Regions from separate parts of the Homo sapiens genome. Here region 2 is linked to region 1. The links come from fine-mapping of genetic effects on gene expression. A gene starts in region 1. The other region holds a variant in brackets. All regions are shown on one strand. Distances are from middle to middle.

Region 1 (2,937 bases):
GAGCTGAAGCATACTGTATATATTTACTTCTTTAAAAAATTTCATATAAAGGAATAGAATACTAAAAAGAAAAAAAAACAAAAAAGGTCACAATATTCCATAATTCCATCACTCCTACCAATTAACTGAAGTAAAAAAACCCTCTCAAGTCTCTCCCTTTGCTTGTCAAGCCCTGCTGCAGAGAGGTAAGCTCTGTTCAGAATTTACTTTGTGTCCTGGATTTTTTCCTATGCTCATAGAGACAGGATTAGCTGGCCATCTTGCTTTCTGTGCTATCTTTTCTAGACATGTAAAATAATACATTTGAAATACTTGTTTTAATGGTATTTTATAATAAAGCAGCTTTTAATAACTTTTCTCTTTTCCAGCCGTCTTTGTGGCAATTTTACATTGGTAAGATTTAGTTTCAGTTCGAAATATTTAAAAACATTTGAATTAAAAATTGCCATCACTCTTTGCATACAGTAAAACAATAACTTCTGGCTATATTTGTAGAACATCTTTATGTACGCCATTTTATACATATATTTTGCTTTTTTACAAACCTCATATGTGAAACAGCATTTACAAAATAGATGCATTGGGGGAATAGTAACTTATGAATTAAAATATTTTGGCTTTACCAAATAATTCACCACGTTTTTAAAAATATCTAGCTTTTCTAGTGTATTTTGCATGTGTAGTTCATTTAAAACCCTCCTTTGTTTTATGGTAATTATATGTTGCTAGTGAAATAACTTTTTTTTTTTTTTTTGAGACAGTCTTGCTCTGTCTCCCAGGCTGGAGTGCAGTGGCGCGATCTTGACTCATTGCAACCTATGCCTCCCAGGCTCAAGTGATTCTCGTGCCTCAGCCTTCTGAGTAGCTGGGATTACAGGTATGCGCCACCACACCCAGCCAATTTGTTGTATTTTTAGTGGAGATGAGGTTTCACCGTGTTGGCCAGGTTGGTGTCAAACTCCTGGCCTCAAATGATCCACCTGCCTTGGCCTCCCAAAGTGTTGGGATTACAGGCATGAGCCACCACGCTCAGCTAGTGAAATAACTTTGGTGATAAAGTTTTAGTAACACCCGCCAATTGGAAGTCAGGTAAAAAAGAAGATAAAGATTCTGCAGTGGTTATACAGAGTTAAATGGCTTTGACTCTTTCAGTGTGCAAGGCTGTGTACATTATTTTACAAAAGTGTTTATAAAAATTTGTAAAATAATATTTCCCTCTGGAATATTTTATTTTTACCTGTGCTCAGCGATTTCTACCCTTGGAAGGTATGAGATCTGCCCCTATGTTCTATTGATACAGTGCTGCTCTAGACATTTAGTCTGCAGGGAGATTTTGGTATTAGAACTGAGGCTGCAATGCTAGGGAATATTCCTGCAGTTTTTGGTACCCTGGCATATGTCCTACATGTAAAGAAGGGTTAGTGGAAAACAGGGTTAATACATGGAACTTTGCTTTATTTTCAACTTCACTGGAAAGTACTGACTACATAAGTTAGCTATAGCATAATTGTTGACCACAGCTAATTTTGTTTATCACATATGCTCCTTTCTTCACTGCCTACAGCTGCTGAGTTTCACTACTAAAAGGTCTTCAAGTACACACCTGTATTCTTTGGCGCTTGAAAGTTGATCCTTTATGTGATATTATACTTATTGTAAGTCTGTTTTGATCTAAAGTAATTTTATTTAAAATTATATTCTGAACCCTTTTCAACAGTTACGGAGGTATTTCCCAAGGCTGGTACATTAGAATCACTTGAAACTTAAAAAACAAACACTAACCTGCCTCTGTTCTGATTTAGAGGCCTGGGATGGAAGGAAGGGTGAAACAAGCCACAAGAATTTTAGATATACAATTAAGTTGGTTTTTTTTTTTTGAGACAGAGTCTTACTCTGTCGCCCAGGCTGGAGTGCAGTGGCATGATCTCTGCTCACTGCAACCTCCGCCTGCTGGGTTCAAGCAATTCTTCTGCCTCAGCCTCCCTAGCAGCCAGGATTACAGACATGCACTACCATGGCTGGCTAATTTTTGTATTTTTAGTAGAGACAGGGTTTCACCATGTTGGCCAGGCTGGTCTCAAACTCCTGACCTCAAGTGATCTGCCCGCCTCGGGCTCCCAAAGTGCTGGGATTACAGGCATGAGCCAACGCACCCGGCAACAATTAAGTTTAAAAACCACTGAGTTAAGGAATTTCAGGTGTGTGCCATACTGCATTATAAATGCCTAAAAACATACGAGTTAGTAAGCAAATTATAAAAACAATATTATAACAATTTATTGTTTCCTTTTTTATGGCTTTCTTACTTATCGCTTATTTTAATGTTGGTTTTGAAACTTGTTCTTATTGTAATATGATACTTCATTGCACTGTTTCATAAGCTATAACCCAGGTTTATTATTTAAATAGTAAAGTGTTTGAGATTATTTTTCTGTTACTTCATTATCTCTCACCCTTTCCTAATGCAGACTTCTTTTTAAGATAATGAAGATGAATTATAGTAGCTGAGGAAGGAGGACAAAGAAAGCACTGAAGAAGTGATAAAGGGGAATGAAATGAGATGTTATCAGAAATTGCTTTTTCTTTGGCTACAGTTGGGAGGTCCCATGTTTTACTGGGTCTTTTACTGATGATGATTATTATTTGGTTCTCTTTTGATTTCAAGATAATCTCTTTTAAGAGATGACTTTTGATATAATTTTTAAATATTTTTCTGTTTTTCGATACTTAATCTTTAAAATGGAGTTTTCTGCCATACACATCTCACATAATTATTGTGAGGAGTAAATGGGATAGCGAATACCAAAATTGTGCAATTTTACATTTAGAAGACACCACAACCGTCCATCTTCCAGATCTGCTCCCAGCTGGTCGGGGGCCTACTGAAGCATTGAAGCTGACTCTCCTCACTCTAGCCATTGCTTTTTGTTTAAATTA
Region 2 (2,937 bases), 32 kb after region 1:
TTTTAGTAGAGATGGGGTTTCACTGTGTTGGCCAGGCTGGTCTCGAACTCCTGACGTCATGACCCGCCCGCCTTGGCCTCCCAAAGTGCTGGGATTACAGGCGTGAGCCACCGCACCAATCACCAAAATATTAAAAATGGTTAGCTCTAAGAGGTGCTTACTTTCTCTTTTCAACTCTTTATTTTTTGACATTCTCCCCCCAGTGATTTCACATTAGTTTCCCAGAATGTATAGTGTTATTTTTAAAAAACCTCTGAGACATGAACATTCTGTTGGAAATTTTTTTCTGTTATTTTTTCTTTGTCTTTGAACTTTTAAAAATAGCTTGCAGTTTGGAAACAATTGGTCAATTAAATCTTCTGCTTGATTAAAATTGTAATGGGTACAGGTGCTATTATTCCATTCTGTTCCAGTTTTTATAATATATTTTATATATTTTATGAAGGAATAAATTCAAGGATCTAAATGAAGTGAATTATGAAATGTTTCTATAAATCTTTGTATTTTTCTATTAATCACCGTATTTTAATTATATACTTTTATATTGACTTACTATTATTTATATTACAGAATTGGCTATCACATATATAATATTTTTCTATATAGAGGCATAATGTGTAATTTTGAAGTGACTGATTCCTAAGTGAAATGATCTAAATAAATTTGTCAGAATTTATAATGTCTAAGGCAACCATCACAAAATGGTATTTTGGAAAGATTATTATTATGAAGAGAATATATTTTCCTCCATTATCTCTTTGTTTTTATCTTTTTAAAGGTAATCATAGCCTCCTGGTGTCGCACATCCATGGGAATAATGAATTTATTTGGACTAGAAACTAAGACCTGCTGGAATGTCACCAGAATAGAACCTCTTAATGAAGTTCAAAGCTGTGAAGGCATGTTTCTTCCAAAAATGCTGTCATTTGTAAACATTCATAAACATTTAATAATATTATGATTCACTTTTAAGAATTATTGTAAAATACTGTTGTTGATTTAAAAAAAAATTAGAACTGGCTCACCTCAATGAGTATTTTACGTTTTAAAGTAGTTTTCTGAGAAGGCTGTGTACTTACAAATTTGAGTATAAATTTTGGAATTTGAGTATTAACATATCCCATTGTAAGGCAATCTTGACTATAAGTTAGTCTTCT[G/A]TTTCAGAATGCGAAGATACAGAAAGATGTTTTTTGGGGTAGCTTCAATATATAAATTTTGAGGATAGATTAAACAGTCAAATATCTATTTGTAATAGCTAATGTATAAATTTAATTATGCATACATATTTAAAAATCGGATATGCAATAATAGATTGATTTAGAAACATTACTTTTTTATATATGCTCATAGTATTAATAAAACTCTTCCTATTTATCTTCCACATTGGTTTCTTTGTCAAAGAACCACTTTTGGAGTCATCCAACAGCTTTCCAGGATACATAGTGGTCACTTCCATTTAAGATGTTTGCATTTCAGCACTTTTATAATTCAAATATGGTGCTGTCCCTTGAGACTTGTTGAGAGCCACATGTATCTCTTTTTATAACACTAACACTGTTGTTTTTTCTGCATTTCTTCAAATTCTTAACAACATGACTTATTATATTTTATGAATAAATTTTTAGACTTGTTTGTAACAACATTCAACTCTTGGAATATAAACTAAATCTATTTTCCTTACATTTTTTACTGATTGCCTCAGTAAAAATAGAATTGATGAGGATGTTTGAGGGGCAATTATATTTTTTTGTGTACAATGTAAAGGATTGGAGAAAATGCCTCATAAAATGAGATACTTTGCAATGATTCAATCAGCTAGAAGGTGTGACCCTGTCTGAGTGGTGAAAATGATCACCTAAATATGGTATTAATTACCTTCCCAATAAGTGATAAGTTACTGTTTGGCACTTGGGACACAGAGATGAACCAGCTAGACATGGGGCCTTACCCTCATAGAGTTTATGCTGTAAGGGGTCTGTTAGCAGTTACAACTGTGAGGGATACTACAAATAAGAAAATAAGATTACCAACATGAGGAGTAAGAGGATAAGTATTTTAAGAATAGGGAATAACATATTCAAATATCCTGAAGCAAGAGGGAACTGAAAGAAGGCTAGAATTCCTGGAAATGATGGAGAAGAAAAATGATGTGAAATGGTGCTGGGAATATAAGCGAGGATCAGATCATGAAAGGCGTGCACTGGTGAAGGATTTTATACTTTATCCATTGAAGAATTTTAACAGAGTTTCATTTTAAAACATTATTTAATCAATGGTATGGAAAGAATATTAGTAAAGGGACAAAAGTAGGTTCAGGGAGGCCAGGTAGAAGACTATTATATTCTCAGCAAGTGATTGCAGGAAAGATAATGTGGATATGCAGGAAAGATAATGTGGATAATGTGGGTTTGAGAGAGATTTTGGAAGTAGAATGGACAAGACCCTGTCTTGGTAATTGTTTGGTAAGAGAGGGGAAGGTGAGTGAAGAATCATGTGAAACAGTTTGGTTTCTAGCTTAAGTAACTGAGCTTTGAATGGTAGGAAACATTTGAACAGTAGCAGGTTTGTATTGTTATGTTTCATTGTGTATGCATGAATTTGAGGTACTTGAGAGACCTCAGAGTGGGGACATCAAGTGGCTATCTGGGTATAAGAATAAGGAGAAAGTTCTGGATTAAATGTAGAGTTGGAGTCATCTGTATATAGATCATTGGAGCCATGGATGTGGAAGAATTTCTTTATGGAGAATGCGCAGATAGAGAAATGAAGGGGGCATATGACAGAGCCTAAGGTGGTCCAGTATTAAAGAGTGGTACATAAAACAAGAGAAATTACTGGAACTGATTGAAAGGAGTGACCAGAGAGGCAGGGGGAATCAGAAGGCCAGCCTTCAGACTTTGGCTCCAGCCAGTTAAAGTGAAATAACCTTTGACAAGT

Evidence for each region. PIP is the estimated chance that this variant, and not a neighbour inherited with it, causes the effect.
Region 2: its variant is fine-mapped to the expression of LINC00997 in whole blood (TOPMed, PIP above 0.99).

Annotation. Positions count from the first base shown.
Region 1 is chr7:32,756,732-32,759,668 of GRCh38, reverse strand. It overlaps LINC00997 (long intergenic non-protein coding RNA 997), which reads right to left and starts at 1,383. Exons shown (of 1, transcript NR_036501.1): 1 at 1-1,383.
Region 2 is chr7:32,724,312-32,727,248 of GRCh38, reverse strand. No RefSeq gene overlaps it. Among named protein-coding and RNA genes, the nearest start is that of MIR550A2, 7.2 kb to the left of the region's middle. The variant G/A (reference allele first, on the strand shown) is at 1,158.